Linked DNA regions of Homo sapiens: region 1 is linked to region 2. The links come from fine-mapping of genetic effects on plasma protein levels. A gene starts in region 2. The other region holds a variant in brackets. All regions are shown on one strand. Distances are from middle to middle. Region 1 has its middle 14 kb from the start of RNASE10. Region 2 holds the start of RNASE10 (ribonuclease A family member 10 (inactive)).

What was found. A credible set is the group of variants that fine-mapping cannot tell apart. PIP is the posterior inclusion probability: the model's chance that the variant is causal. The UK Biobank Pharma Proteomics Project read protein levels with antibody pairs (Olink). The fine-mapping took linkage between variants from a reference panel, not from the people measured, so its PIPs are less certain.
Region 1: its variant is the best candidate, but not a certain one, in a credible set for the plasma level of the RNASE10 protein (UK Biobank, PIP 0.76).

The regions. Positions count from the first base shown.
Region 1 is chr14:20,515,308-20,523,641 of GRCh38, reverse strand. No RefSeq gene overlaps it. Among named protein-coding and RNA genes, the nearest start is that of RNASE10, 14 kb to the right of the region's middle. The variant T/A (reference allele first, on the strand shown) is at 3,257.
Region 2 is chr14:20,501,423-20,509,756 of GRCh38, reverse strand. It overlaps RNASE10 (ribonuclease A family member 10 (inactive)), which reads right to left and starts at 4,220. Exons shown (of 2, transcript NM_001386206.3): 1 at 3,738-4,220.

The sequences.
Region 1 (8,334 bases), 14 kb before region 2:
ATGCAAATACATGTGAGTGTGAGTGTGATTGGCTATTTGCCATATTCCCACCTATGTCCACTGAGACAGCCTTAGAGCTCTCTCACCCCAACAGCAATGAGCACCTACCTAGCACCCAGATCCAGGTTTCAAAATACTGTTCGTCACTAAACACAACCAGGTCATCTTAGAAAAATGACTGGTTCCAGGGGAAGGAAAATATAAAATGAGCTTGGACCATCTTGTAGTTTCTAAAAGCAAGGAACTGCCTAAATAATGATGGGGAGGCTGGGCATGGTGGCTCATGCCTGTAATCTCAGAACTTTGGGAGGCCGAGGCAGGAGGACCCCTTGAGCCCAGGAGTTCAGAGACCGGCCTGTGCAACATAGTGAGACACTATCTCTACAAAAAATGAAAAAGAAAGAAAGAAGAAAGAAAGAGAAAGAAAGAAAGGAAGGAAGGAAGAAAGAAAGAAAGAAAGAAAGAAAGAAAGAAAGAAAGAAAGAAAGAAAGAAAGAAAGAAAGAAAGAAAAGAACAAACATTAGCTGGGCATGGTCATGCACACCTGTAGTCTCAGCTACTCAGGAGGTTGAGGTAGGAGCATTGCTTGAGCCCAGGAGTTTGAAAGCAGTGAGCCATGATCACACCCCTGCACTCCAGCTTGGACAACAGAGCAAAGAAAAGAAGAAGAAGAGAGAAAGAAGAAGAAAAAGAGGAGGAAGAGGAAGAAGAAGAGGAAGAAGAAGAAGAAGAAGAAGAGGAGGAGGAGGAGGAGGAGAAAGAATAGGGATACATCAAAAACACACAGAAGCCCTATTAAAATAGCTTCCACTGGCTAATCTGGGACAACTTATAACTCATTGAATAAAACAAGAAACCATGAATCCATACTGATATAAATAAATGAATGCATTTAAAATATAAGGATTTAAATACCTACACAGTTTTCTTCTTCTTCTTCTTCTTCTTCTTATTCTTCTTCTTCTTCTTCTTCTTCTCCTTCTCCTTCTCTTTCCTCTTCCCCTTCCCCTTCCACTTCCCCTTCTCCTCCCTCCTCCCTCCTCCCTCCTCCCTCCTCCTCCTTCTCCTTCTTCTTTTTGAGATGGAGTCTTGCTCTGTCAACCAGCTTGGAATGCAGTGAGGCAATCTCACCTTACAGCAACCTCAGCCTCCCAAGTTCAAGTGATTCTCCTGCCTTAGCATCTTGAGTAACTGCAACTACAGGCAACTGCCATCACACCCAGCTAATATTTATAATTTTAGTAGAGATGAGGTTTTGCCATGTTGGCCAGGCTGGTCTCGAACTCCTGATCTCAGGTGATCTTCACCCTCCACCAACCCCCCAGCCTCCCAAAGTGCTGGGATTACAGGCCTGAGCCAACCGGACCCAGCTGAAATACTTACATAGTTTAAAAATGCATCCACTACAAAATACTTAGTAGTTACAAAGAAAAAAATAATAACTTCAGTAGAGAAGGCTGGCAGATTTCATTTTAATCAGGTGAACAAAGTAAACATCATCAATAATGGTTTAAATTGAAATTGAATTGAAACTTAGAGGATGCAGTGGGAAGAACATGCACCATTTTTGTGACATCTCTGCCAAAGATGGAGAATCTAAATCTAATCAGGACAAACCCACATGGAGAAACATTCTACAAAATAACTGGACTGGAATCTTCAAAAGAGTCAAAGTCTAAGAAAGCCTGCGGAATTGTATTACAACAAATGAGAATAAAGAGACATGACTACTAAATGAAACACATGATTCTGATTGGATCTTTTTGCTCTAAAGAACATTATTGAGACAAATGGTAAAATTTGAGTAGAGTCTGAGTTAGATGGTAGCATAATGTGAATGTTAACGTTAATGTCCTGATTTTGATAGCTGTATATGAGAATATCCTTGTTACAAGAAAGGCACACCAAAGTATTCAGGAATGGAGGCGCATTCATTAACTTACTCTCAAATGGTTCTGGAAAAAAAAAAAGAGTTATTTGTGTTGTACTTGCAATTTTTCTGAGATTGATGTTACTTCAAACATTTAAAATTACAGTTCAAAATTATAAGGCAACCCTGTAAATAATATTTGATTCCAAGTTTTTTAACATATACATGTTCGTATGTATATTTGCACATAAAAATCTAAAAGTATATGCACCTAAATATTAAGGGTGATTAATCTTAAATAGTGTGACTACATTTGACCATGATTTTCTCCTTTTTCGTCTGTATTTTCCTAATTTTTTTTACAATGAATGGTATTGCTATTTTTATTCATTAAATCACTAGGAAAAATATTAGAAAATACAAATAAATTTGAAAATAATGAATCAATTAAAATTGCCCTAAATCTCATCACTGAAAGTTAACCACTGATGACATTTTGATATCTATCCTTCCAGGATTTTTTACACGCATATATATATATATGCATGTATAAGAAAGTTAAATATATATTAGAAAACATATATATATAAAATGTTATTTACAAAGGTAGGCATGTGTTTTCACAAAATGAAATAATAATAAACACACCATAAATTTTTTTCACTGAATTCATCTACATTCTTTCACGTCAATAAATTTAGGCCTTTACTATCCCTTTAGGGACTGAATACTATTTCATTGTTAAACTACTATTTATTTAAATAATCCCTGATGTTGGACACTTAGAATTTTTTTACTTTTACCATTATAAATCATGCTATGATGAACATTTTTATTCATACAACTTTATGCATTTGCCAAATTGATTCCTTAGGATAAATTATGAAAAGTAAAATCCTGGGGTCAAAGATTTAAAAAAAAATATTAGGCACTTTTGCTGCATATTATCAAATTGCCCTCTAGAAAGTGTGTGTATCGGCGTATATTCTTACCTGCCTGGTACCCTAACCCATGACAATGTTAAATAGTATCTTTTTTCTATGTGAGGAACTTAAAATAATCAGAATAAACAGTAATCTTTAATATTTCTGGAGATAACTGGATAAGAAAATACATTTCATAAGCTTATAAATGTACTAAAAATGATAAACATTCTATGTTTTTTAACTAAGTTGGTAGGTCAATTATTAGCCTGGGAGTGGGGAAGGGGAGAGGAAGTAAAATAATTCTTTAGTTACTAGATAAAGAAAAAATGATATGAGTGGAGAGATGGAAAAAACACTATAATGAGCCATTCCAGACCAGAAAGTCTTGCATTTCATAACTATATTATCTATTGCTGTGAAACAAATTACTGTAAAACTTAGCAGTTAAAGCAACAAATA[T/A]TTACCATGTTGCAGTTTCTAAAGGTCAAGAATTTAGAAGAAGGTTAACTGATAGGTTCTGGTTCAGGGTCTCTCATAAGCTTGCAGTAAAAATGTCAGCTAGGGCTGCAGTCATCTGAAGGTTTGACTGGGGTTGGAGGAGCTGCTTGCAAGATGGCTCACCCACACGGCCTTTGGGAGGAGGTCTTAATTCCTTCCTGGTGTTGGCAGGAGACCTCAATTCCCACATGGGTCTCTCCATTGTGCTGCTTGAGTGTTCATATGATATGGCACCTAGCTTACCCCCAGAGCGAGTGATGTGAGCTCAAGAGCAAGGAGGAAGCCAAATCCTTTTTTGGACCTATTTCAGAAGAGGCATGCCATCACTTTGATCACATTCTGTTCGCTGGAAGTGAATCCATTTCTAGCAGATTCTCTCACTGAATTCAGTCACACTCAAGGAGAGAGAGATTAAGCTCACCTTTTGGAGGGAAGAGCATTAGTGACTGTGTGGACACATTTTAAGGCTACCATAATAGCTAAAACACATGAAGCTCTTATCAAGAGCTTCTATAGTCTCAGATATTGATGACAGATGGCCAACTAACCACAGATCAAGAAAGGTCAGGTGCAGTGGCTCACCCTTATAATCCCAGCACTTTGGGAGGCCAAGGCAACAGGATTACTTGAGGCCAGGAGTTTAAGGCCAGTCTAGGCAATATAGAAAGCCCCCCATCTCTAAAAATATTTTTGTTTTCTTGAGACTGAGTTTTGCTATTGTCACCTAGGCTGGAATGCAGTGGTGCGATCTCGGCTCACTGCAGCCTCCGCCTCCGGGGTTCAAGCAATTCTCCTGCCTTAGCCTCCCAAGTAGCTGGGACTACAGGCATGTGCCACCACGCCTGGTTAATTTTCTTGTATTTTTTGTAGAGACGGGGTTTCACCATGTTGGCCAGGCTGGTCTTGAACTCCTGACCTCAGGTGATCCTCCTGCCTTGGCCTTCCAAAGTGCTGGGATTAAAGGCATGAGCCACCATGCCCAGCCTAAAACATTTTTTACATTTAAATTTAGAAAAATAAAGTTGGAAACCTAGTGTAATGGAAACATCACTGATTCAGGGGCCAGAATATTGGACCAGGGAAGATCAAGTCATGGCCGGGCACAGTGACACTGTAATCCCAGCATTTTGGGAGGCTGAGGCAGGCAGATCACCTGAGGTCAGGAGTTCGAGGACAGTTTGGCCAACATGGTGAAACCCTGTCTCAATTGAAAATGCAAAAATTAGCCTGACGTGGTGGGAGGTGCCTGTAATCCCAGCTACTCAGGAGGCTGAGGCATGAGAATCACTTGAACCTGGGAGGCAGAGGTTGCAATGAGCCGAGATCGAGCCACTGCACTCCAGCCTGGGCAACAAAGCGAGACTATCTCAAAAAAAAAAAAAAAAAAAAAAGGCATATTAGTCAATGTATGAGAATAGGCTATGCAAAAAATAAAAATAAAAATAAGTGAGTTCAACTAGATATATACACATTGAACACCTACAATGCACAAGGCATTGTGTTAGTTCTACTGGGTATAACCAGAGAGGCTACTTACCTAAGATAAGCTAGTAAATGTTAGAACTACAATTTTAACGCAGTTCTGGAACTTTCAATCGAAGTTACTTACCTAAGATAAGCTAGTAAATGTTAGAAGTACAATTTCAATGAAAGTTCTGGAATTTTCAATTGAAGTTCCAGATTCCATGTGCTTAACCATTATGCTTCACTGACATTCTAGAGTCTACCCTGCCCACCTGCCTGAAGTGATCTCCAGCTTGGGCCCCTGACCTTCAGCTCTTGGAGGGCTTCAAGAAAAATGAATTCCCTATTCCTTCCTTAGAATATGTTCTTGAGGGGCTGGGCACGGTGGCTCACGCCTGTAATCCCAGCACTTTGGGAGGCCGAGGCGGGCGGATCGCAAGGTCAGGAGATCGAGACCATCCTGGCTAACACAGTGAAACCCCGTCTCTACTAAAAGTACAAAAAATTAGCCGCGCATGGTGGCGGGCGCCTGTAGTCCCAGCTACTCAGGAGGCTGAGGCAGGAGAATGGTGTGCACCCGGGAGGCGGAGCTTGCAGTGAGCCGAGATCGCGCCACTGCACTCCAGCCTGGGCAACAGAGCAAGACTCCATCTCAAAAAAAAAAAAAAAAAAAAAAAGAACATGTTCTTGAGTTAGTGATTTATTGAGGGAGTGCTCTTAGGAGAAACCTGTATGTAAGAAGCTAAAAAAAGAAGTGATTTTAGCTAAAAGCTAGTCTCAAACCTGACCCCATGGGGAGCTCTAAAACATGACTGATGCCATAAGATTGAGGCAAGAGGTCTAAGTTCTTACACATCCATATCAGCCAGTCATTGGCTATGGGCTACCCCTGGGGAAGGACATAACCTCTTAGACATTGTCAACAAGGCGGCCCCCATAGGCTGGAGGCTATGCTCTGGAGAAGAGTGCACCTGTGAATTCTTGACAGAGAATACTCAGCAGCTGTGGGATGGCTGCACCTCCCTGGTAAGGGAGGTCTATATGTATCAACTGTTCTCAACCTTACAAATATATTATTTTAACCCCAGTCTTCTAATACAGTTGCTTGCTGTATGTTTGGTCCTTAGCAAGACCAGCTTTCCAGAGCAGTGCCCAGGGCTGGCTCTAATCACATCACCTTCCTTCTTCCTATCACAATTATCCCCTCTGGATCTCATTTGTGGATATGTTGCAAAGCCTGTTTCTTTTGTTTTGTTTTGTTTTGTTTTAATGACTGTATACCCAGTAAGTAGGTAGCACAGTGCCAAACGCATGCAAAAGCATTCATAGAATAAGGCCTATTTTGCTTTTTTCTTTTCTTGTTGTCACCTTATAAATGTGCCGAAGATCCCATTTTTTGAAGTTAATAATTTTATATACTTGTGTATAGGGATATGCAATAAGTTTATAAGGATATAATTCCAAACACTAACCTCATGCTAGTGCTGGAGAGCTGACATTTTCAAACACTGGGGCATCCCAGTACCTCCTGAAATCCTATTTCCATAGGTAATGGACTATTATGTCTCAACATGAGACTCACATTTCCCTCATTGCCTCTGTTGCTTGGCCTTAATATTACCATTTTCCTCTTCCCCTTACCTTTCCCCTAAATCCAAACTTAACTGGGTTTCTGAATCATAATTCTTATAAAGAATCAGCCCAGCTGCTCCTGGAAGTGACGTCTCTGGGATGTGAATCACTTTCTGAAAACAAACTGGAGCCCATTGCAAAAATGTGAAGAGGAGAGAAAGGCAGGTCTCTGCGTAGGATACAGGAAATGGAGGCAGGAACATCAACAAATTCCACGCTAAATCAAAGCATTGCTGAAAATGACAGAAACTCTGTGCCCTGGAGTTCCTTTTGACCCCACCAGCAATGAATCTCTGCTGGATAACGTAACTTCATTTCATGGGAAAGAGAGGCTTGAAAAGAACCAACTGAGGCTACCCTGCTTGGTAGACTGAGCACTTGAGGAAGGCGAGGAGATGACTTCTTGTCGAGAGCCTAATAAGGACATAACACATGAGACATTACCTTGGATACAGCCACAACCAGAGCTGCCTCTACTGTGTGTGGCCCTGGCTAAATTTTTTGGGGGGTAAGGGTGAGGAAGAGGGCCCTATCTATATAAACAGTTTCATGTTTAAATATATTACAAAATTTATGAGCCCAAGTGAAGTATCATGATTTGTCAATGAAGTTTTAGAATAATGAGAAAAGAAAGAGATACTATATATTTCTTTATTGTCCCATCAATGTATATGGAGATTCTTCGGACTGTCCAGATATCATCTCTTCCTGTTAGATCTAGGAATCATTTCTTCACACTCCTTACTGTCAAATGCACCATTCTTGAATATTTCATGTCTCCAACCACAAGAAAAAAGGGTATCACACTGCTACAGCTCTTCGAAACCTATTTAAATTGAAACAATTTGTATCTTCTTGCCTCTGTAGTTTCCTAATGCCATTTAATGTCAGTTATAGTGTTACTCATGACAGGGAATTATCCAGTTTATGGCCTAAATACCAACTTCCAATGACTCTCTCAAAGGTTACTTTATTACTTTATGTTGTTGGTGATGATCACAAATGCAAGTCTTATCCAGAATATGCCAGAAAATGAGAATGATAATTAATTTTCAGGCCATGTAGAATTTGCCATTTGGAGTTTTGTAGTATAAACATAAAACATATCTTCCAATCATATTTTCTCTTGAACTCTTTAAGCCGTAATTACTGCATTCCTAGAACGTGACCTCTTTTACAACTAACCACATTCCTACCTTCCACACATTGCTACTAGCAAGAGACCCGTGGGCAGAGTGAAAAAAGCATCCTGTTCATGCAAGGAGTGATTATCCTTCATCTTGCACAGATTAAGACCAACCCAAGAAAGCATGTTATCACCCACCAGTTGGAGGCAAGAGAGAACATTGACAGGAAATGCCCCATTGGGGCTAGGAGCGGTGGCTCATGCCTGTAATCTCTGCTCACTGTAACCTCCCTCTCCCAGGTCCAAGCAAATCTCCTGCCTCAGCCTCCCAAGTAGCTGGGATTACATGTGCCTGCCACCATGCCCAGCTTTTTTTTTTTTTTTTTTTTTTTTTGTATTTTTAGTAGAGATAGGGTTTCACCATGTTAGCCAGCCTGGTCTCGAACTTCTGACCTCAGGTGATCCACCTGCCTCGGCCTCCCAAAGTGTTGGGATTACAGGCATAAGCCACCACGCCTGACCAAGTCCCAGAACTCTTTTGCAGCACCTAGTTGACCCCACACATGGCAGTGGGGAGACAGTGCTCCAAAGGGGAGAAATGGGACCCGGGCCCACACCAGTCCTAGTCTAAGCTCAGAGCACCCTACCCACATGGCACTGCTGGCCTCAGCCAGTCCCAGATACTGTAGTGGGGTAACTTCCTGTATGGAAGGCACTCCAAAGGGACCCTTGAGGGCAGTGGCCCTGCTCGCTCAAGTCTAAGGACTCTACTGGCCCTAGAATATAAATTTTGTGGCCATCCAAGGAATGAAATTTT
Region 2 (8,334 bases):
TAGGGAAATTCTTGTAGAAAGCCTTATTGTCAATATAGGACTAGATTTACCACAGAAGACCATCTCTTTATTTTTAACCCAAATTTGCTTTTGCTTATTCAAATATCTATTACTCTTCTTGTTACCCACCTTCCCCACAAAAGATAAAAAGGAATAGAAAAAGTACCACAGTCCATTCTTACTCCTAAGCTGAGGCTGGAGGGAAGATGTCCAACTTTACATCTCAGGCCCCTGCTAAAGCTACATCTTGTTAAGCCAGATTCCTTCTACTATTAAAGATCTCTTAACATCTGAGTAGTCTTGCTGATTAGGTTTATACTCTCAGGGAAGAAATGGAATAAGAATGAAACCAAAGAAAATCAAACAATTGACCTGCTGGGGGTTCCCCTACTCATAAAGATTCTAAGGAGGCCAGGCTTGGTGGCTTCTGCCTATAATCCCAGCACTTTGGGAGGCCAAGGCAGGTGGATCACCTGAGGTAGGAGTTCAAGATCAGCCTGGCCAACATGGTGAAACCCCATCTCTACTAAAAATACAAAAATTAGCCGGCATGGTGCCACGCACCAGTAGTCCCAGCCACTGGGGAAGCTGAGACACGAGAATTGCTTGAACCCGTGAGAAGGCCAAGATGGTGCCACTGCACTACAGCCTGTGTGACGGAGTGAGATTCTGTCTCAAAAAAAGAAGATCCTAAGGAGAGCTGAGCATGCATCTTTGTCTTGCTAGGCCAGTCTCATCCCCTTAACAAAGAGACACATTCCCTGCCAGAAAAAAAAAAAATTGCTATGAAGAACATTATTGAGGCAATTGATAAAAGTATGATCTCTGTAGTAGATAAGAGTATTATGGCAGTCCCCCTTATCCACAGGGAATATGTTCCAAGACCCCAGTGAATGTCTAAGGCCCTATATGTACTGTTCTCTTCCTATACATACATATCTACATAAGTTTAATTTATAAATTAGTAATATATATTAACAACAACTAATAAAATAGAATAATTATAACAATATACTGTTCAAAATTTGCAGATAAAAGATTCTTTCTTACTGTAGATTTTACCAATTGCAGCATGTTTTTCCCCCCTTTCCTTATTAAGTTGAGACACTTTCACCTTTTCACTCAAACGGAGCACTTTACGGGTTCTTTTTGACGTGTCTGAATTGCCAGCATCATCATTCTTGCACTTTGCGGCTATTACTAGGTAAAATAAGGGTTATGTGAACACAGGCGCTGAGATACTGTGACGGTGCATCTGATATTGGCCACTAAGTAGCTAATGGGTGGGTGGTGTCTACAACATGGACACGCTGGACAAAGGGATGGTTCACATCCCAGGCAGGATGGAGTGAGACGGTGAGAGATTTCATCACATTACTCAGAACAGCATGCAACATTAAATTATGAATTGTTTATTTCTGGAATTTGCCATTTAATAGTTTCAGACCGTCGTTGACCATGGGTAACTGAAACTTTGGGTAGGGAGAATCACTGTATATATGTATTTGATATACTGAATGTAAAACTGTACCCTGATTGTTTAAGAAAATATCCTTCTTCTTAGGAGATGCACACTGAAATATTAAGCAGGAAAAGAGCACAACATATGCAATATACTCTCAAATGCTTCGGAATATAGATATATGGATATGTATACATGTGTGTGTTTACAGAGAGAGAGAGAAAATGATAAAAAATAAATAGGGGGCCTGGGCGCAGTGGCTCATGCCTGCAATTCCAGTGCTTTGGGAGACCGAGGCAGGTGGATCACTTGAGTCCCGGAGTTTGAGACCAGCCTGGGCAACATGGTGAAACCCCATCTCTACAAAAAATATGAAAAAATTAGCCTGGCTTGGTGGCGTGTGTCTTCAGTTCCAGCTACCAGGCAGGCTGAGGTGGGAGGATGGTTGGAGCCCAGGAAGTTGAGGCTGCAGTGAGCCATGATCCAACTGCTACACCCCAGCCTGGGCAACCGGAGTGAGAATCTATCTCTAAATAAATAAATAAATAAATAAATAAATAAATAAATAAGGGAAGTTTAAAAAAATAATGTACCTGGATAAAGAATATTCATGAGTTCCATGAATTATTATCACATTTGTTTGTAAAGTTGAAAATTTTATTTATTTATTTATTTATTTTTTTAATTGATCATTCTTGGGTGTTTCTCGCAGAGGGGGATTTGGCAGGGTCATAGGACAATAGTGGAGGGAAGGTCAGCAGATAAACAAGTGAACAAAGGTCTCTGGTTTTCCTAGGCAGAGGACCCTGCAGCCTTCCGCAGTGTTTGTGTCCCTGGGTACTTAAGATTAGGGAGTGGTGATGACTCTTAACGAGCATGCTGCCTTCAAGCATCTGTTTAACAAAGCACATCTTGCACCGCCCTTAATCCATTTAACCCTGAGTGGACACAGCACATGTTTCAGAGAGCACAGGGTTGGGGATAAGGTCACAGATCAACAGGATCCCAAGGCAGAAGAATTTTTCTTAGTACAGAACAAAATGAAAAGTCTCCCATGTCTACTTCTATCCACACAGACCCGGCAACCATCCGATTTCTCAATTTTTTCCCCACCCTTCCCGCCTTTCTATTCCACAAAACCGCCATTGTCATCATGGCCCATCCCCAATGAGCCGCTGGGCACACCTCCCAGACGGGGTCCTGGCCGGGCAGAGGGGCTCCTCACTTCCCAGTAGGGGCGGCCGGGCAGAGGCGCCCCTCACCTCCCGGACAGGGCGGCTGGCCGGGCGGGGGGCTGACCCCCACCACCTCCCTCCCGGACGGGGCGGCTGGCCGGGCGGGGGGCTGACCCCCCCTCCCCCCTCCCGGACGGGGCGGCTGGCCAGGCAGAGGGGCTCCTCACTTCCCAGTAGGGGCGGCCGGGCAGAGGCGCCCCTCACCTCCCGGACGGGGCGGCTGGCCAGGCGGGGGGCTGATCCCCCCACCTCCCTCCCGGACGGGGCGGCTGGCCGGGCGGGGGGCTGACCCCCCCCACCTCCCTCCCGGACGGGGCGGCTGGCCGGGCGGGGGGCTGACCCCCCCACCTCCCTCCCGGACGGGGCGGCTGGCCGGGCGGGGGGCTGACCCCCCACCTCCCTCCTGGACTGGGCGGCTGGCCAGGCGGGGGGCTGATCCCCCCACCTCCCTCCCGGACTGGGCGGCTGGCCGGGCAGAGGGGCTCCTCACTTCCCAGTAGGGGCGGCCGGGCAGAGGCGCCCCTCACCTCCTGGATAGGGCGGCTGGCCGGGCGGGGGGCTGACCCCCACCACCTCCCTCCCGGACGGGGCGGCTGGCCGGGCAGGGGGCTGACCCCCCCTCCCCCCTCCCGGACGGGACGGCTGGCCGGGCAGAGGGGCTCCTCACTTCCCAGTAGGGGCGGCCGGGCAGAGGCGCCCCTCACCTCCCGGACTGGGCGGCTGGCCGGGCGGGGGGCTGACCCCCCCCACCTCCCTCCCGGACGGGGCGGCTGGCCGGGCAGATGGGCTCCTCACTTCCCAGTAGGGGCGGCCGGGCAGAGGAGCCCCTCACCTCCCGGACGGGGCGGCTGGCCGGGCGGGGGGCTGACCCCCCCCCACCTCCCTCCCGGACGGGGTGGCTGCCGGGCGGAGACGCTCCTCACTTCCCAGACGGGGTGGCTGCCGGACGGAGGGGCTCCTCACTTCTCAGACGGGGCGGTTGCCAGGCAGAGGGTTTCCTCACTTCTCAGACGGGGCGGCCGGGCAGAGACGCTCCTCACCTCCCAGACAGGGTTGCGGCCCAGCAGAGGCGCTCCTCACATCCCAGACAGGGCGGCGGGGCAGAGGTGCTCCCCACATCTCAGACGATGGGCGGCCGGGCAGAGACGCTCCTCACTTCCTAGATGGGATGGCGGCGGGGAAGAGGCGCTCCTCGCTTCCTAGATGGGATGGCGGCCGGGCAGAGACGCTCCTCACTTTCCAGACTGGGCAGCCAGGCAGAGAGGCTCCTCGTATCCCAGACGATGGGCGGCCAGGCAGAGACGCTCCTCACTTCCCAGACGGGGTGGCGGCCAGGCAGAGGCTGCAATCTCGGCACTTTGGGAGGCCAAGGCAGGCGGCTGGGAGATGGAGGTTGTAGCGAGCTGAGATCACGCCACTGCACTCCAGCCTGGGCACCATTGAGCACTGAGTGAACCAGACTCCGTCTGCAATCCCGGCACCTTGGGAGGCCAAGGCTGGCGGATCACTCGCGGTTAGGAGCTGGAGACCAGCCCGGCCAACACAGTGAAACCCCGTCTCCACCAAAAAAGTACGAAAACCAGTCAGGCGTGGTGGCGCGCGCCTGCAATCGCAGGCCCTCGGCAGGCTGAGGCAGGAGAATCAGGCAGGGAGGTTGCAGTGAGCCGAGATGGCAGCAGTACCGTCCAGCTTTGGCTCGGCATCAGAGGGAGACCGTGGAAGGAGACCGTGGAGGGAGAGGGAGAGGGAGAGGGAGAGGGAGAGGGAGAGGGAGAGGGAGAGGGAGAGGGAGAGGGAGCAAACTCACTTTTTCATCCTTATGATTTGTCTATATATTCTTTTGGGGTTTCTAAACACAGACACTGTTTCATGGGTGAATCAATCAGAGTTTTACTTTTTCTTGTCTGGCACTGGAGCTCTTTCTTTGTCCTACCCTACAGCATTGGCTGAGACCTCCAGCACCATAACTTGTAGAACCGCAGATCAAGGCACTTTCAGGATTCACATTCAGTGAGGTTTGCCAGAGTTACTTCTGCTCCTCTAGCAATTGATCAGATAACGCTTTTTCATTATTCTTGTTGTATTCGCTGGATACACGCTGCTTGAGCTTTGGAGCCTCGCAGTGGTGTGTACGTGTGGCGGGGGCTGGCCTGTGAGCTCCTCTCCGCTGCTGTCCTTGCTGGGTTAGGGACTGAGGCTACGTTGGCCTCAGGAGCTGGTGAGTGCTCCCTTGTCTTTCTGGAAGAGTTTTGTGGACGTGCATTACTTTCCCTGTAAATGGTTGGTAGAATGCTGTGGTGATGCTGTCTGCGCCTGGAGTTCTTTGTGAGAGAAGGTTGTAATGACAGATTCCTTTTTTTTTTTTTTTTTTTGAGACGGAGTCTCTCTCTGTCGCCCAGGCTGGAGTGCGGTGGCGCGATCTCGGCTCACTGCAAGCTCCGCCTCCCAGGTTCACGCCATTCTCCTGCCTCAGCCTCCCAAGTAGCTGGGACTACAGGCGCCCGCCACCGCGCCCGGCTAATTTTTTGTATTTTTTAGTAGAGACGGGGTTTCACCGTGTTAGCCAGAATGGTCTCGATCTCCCGACCTCGTGACCCGCCCGCCTCGGCCTCCCAAAGTGCTCGAAAATTTATTAAAAAATTATTTATTTTAAAAAAGAGAGAGGACTTCCATGTTGTTCCTTGAGGCACCCAACACCTCTGTGACTTACGTACATGCATAAGCAGCTGCAGAGATTCTTGTGTCCTCTCGTTCCCCAAGTTCTTCCCTCCCAGGGTTTCCTTCTTCGTGAGCAGTGCCCTGGCTGCTAGTCTGAAGAAAAATGGTTATCTTCTGGTGGTCCACGTGCTCTTAAACACACACTTACTTCCTAAACCCACTCCCCGTTTCACTTCCTCCGCCTAGCACTGAACAAACACACTCAGCCAATTCTTTCTGTTCCCACAAACACTTTGAAGTGAGGCTATCTGGGCACTGAGACAGATCCAGACATCCAAGACGGGAAATCTCTCCAGCCTGGGAAACTGCAGACAGTTTTGTTTCATGGATCAATTGTTCTGCTCCTGAGTTACACCCGCTATCCTGTGGTTTATGCAGCCTGACCTTGTGCATGAATCTCAAGTTTAGTCTTTTCTTATATCTGCCACATGTACTTCCTTTAATCCTCTCCTATAATTTCTGCAGTGTCAAGATCTTTGGCCTTTATTTGGCCATCTCTCCAACATGATTATTACTTTACAAGTGTATTATGACAAGATTTAGAGTATTTGAGACAATCATGAGTTTTCACATATCTTTACCTATAACTTTATCCAGTTTTCCACTCTCTACTCCCTCTTTCCATTCCCCTAGCCAATAACCACATTCCCATAAGAATATCTGGATTTTGCAAATCTGATCATTTAGCCCTAGATAGGAGACTATCCAAAGCAGCATTATCATTATCAGTCCCTATACTCTGGGTGAATAAAACCAGGAGGGTTACAATGTTGATCCTAAGGTTCACTTCTTTAGCTGAAATTGACATTCTGAGATAATATTTTTAAAACCACTCTGGAGACTGTTAAGGCACTATAAAAATCATCTGTAGACATAAACACGATCTTTTAAGAAGATGTTTTCCTAAACTGTGGTATAAAAAAATAAAATAAAAATAAAAGAAGATGTTTTCCTTAGTCCTTCAGGCAGAATTTTTCAAATGGTGGTCTAGGAGCCACTTCTGTGATTTACAAAGTCTACTGGGCTGACTTTTGCAGTGCTGGTGTTTATAATTTGCAGTAAGAGCAATGACACCGACTACCAGTATTGAGCACTTCCTTTTGCAAGGCACTGACTGCATTTCACCCTCACATTTGCTTGCGCTATCCCTCTTTGGTGTCTATTCTGCCCATTTATTCTGGTGAGGTCTATTTGCAATGTGAAGAGAAAATCAAGAATTATCTGCTGAGCCCAGCAGCAGTCTAAGGTCAGCAGGGGTAATGTATTCAACAACCATGCATCACCTGCTTCTTTATAACTAAAGAGTTTTGTTACTACTAGAGATCATTTGAAATTAACCTTTAATTAAATACAAAGAAAGAACCTAAGTCTGTGTAAGTATAACCTTTAGACTGGACAGGTTTTTAATTTTCATTTTTATTTCTTTTTCTAGGCTACAGTTTTCTCGTCTTCTAAATTTGAATCGTTCTTGGACATAAAGTGGTTTATAATACTAAAAAAATTTTTTAAATAAAAAATGAATAAATTTGGATAATAGTAGCACTTACTTTACAGGGCTGTTGTAAATATTATATAAGACACTGCATGTAAAAGGCTAAATGTATTAGTTGTTGTTGTTATTGCTCTTACATAGCAATTACCAACACATGCTCATTACCCACCCAATCAATATCATTTTCCTGTTTAGAAATAGCACATACTAAGGACCGTAGCTACCAACACTGCTCACTGTATCTTCTAGAAGAGTCAACCAGTATCCTGGAATCTCTCAGAAGGAATTATGAGAAGGCTGATATAAGATGACCCTCATTTCACCAACAAAGAAGTGGCTCAAGTAAGTTAATGTCCCAAATGCTACAGATAACTAATAGCAGTTCTGATACTAAAACCCTTGGCTTGTAGTTAAGAAAAATTTATGATAAATAAATAGATGGTGGATAAATGATAGGTAGATAGATAGACAGACAGATAGATAGGTGTAAAGAGATAGGGGTAGAAAAGATTGATGTTAAAACTGAACCCTACAATTCTCCCAGCTTATTTCCTAGAAAGAGTTTTCAGGCTGTGGCACAGAGAGGGAGACCCAGGCAGAGTCCGCCAGTCTTCCTGAGCTGAGGAGATAAAACTGGGGGTCCAAGGAAGCCAAGGCAACTGGAGTTCACAGAGCACAGTACCAGAGAGGACAGAATTGCAGACAGAACTTCAGAGATCTGGAGTGACAAGATGTCACTGCACATCCATCAGAATGGCTAAAAGAATAAATAGCGCAAATACCAACTGCCGGCAAGGAGGCAGAGAAACTGGGTACACGCATACATTAATGGTGAAAATATAAATGTTATGGCCACTCTGTAAAACAGTTTGTCAGATTCCTTTTTTTACTGATACATAATAGTTGTACATATTTGTGGGGTTTTGATACATTCATACAATGTTCGATAATCAAGTCAGAGTAATTGGGATATCCATTACCTCAAGCATTTATCATGTCTTTGTGTTGAGAACATTCCAAATCTTCTAATCATTTTGAAATATACAATAAATTATTGATAACTATGGTCATCCTGCTGTGCTATTGAACACTGTAACTTATTCCTTCTGTCTAACTGTGTATGCTTACCATACAACCCAGCAATTGCACTCCTTGGCATTTAACCCAGAGAAATGAAAACATATGTTCACATAAAAACCTGTACAGAAATAAAATAGCAGTTTTCTTCATAATATTCAAAACCTGGAAACCATCCAAATGTTCTTCAATGGGTGATGCATTAAGCAAACCATGGTACATGTACCATGGAATATGACTCAGCAGTAAAAAGGAATGAACTATTGATACACACAATAAATTAGATACATCTCAAGGGCATTATGCTAAATGAAAAAAATGTATCATCAAGCAGCCATGTACTGTATGAT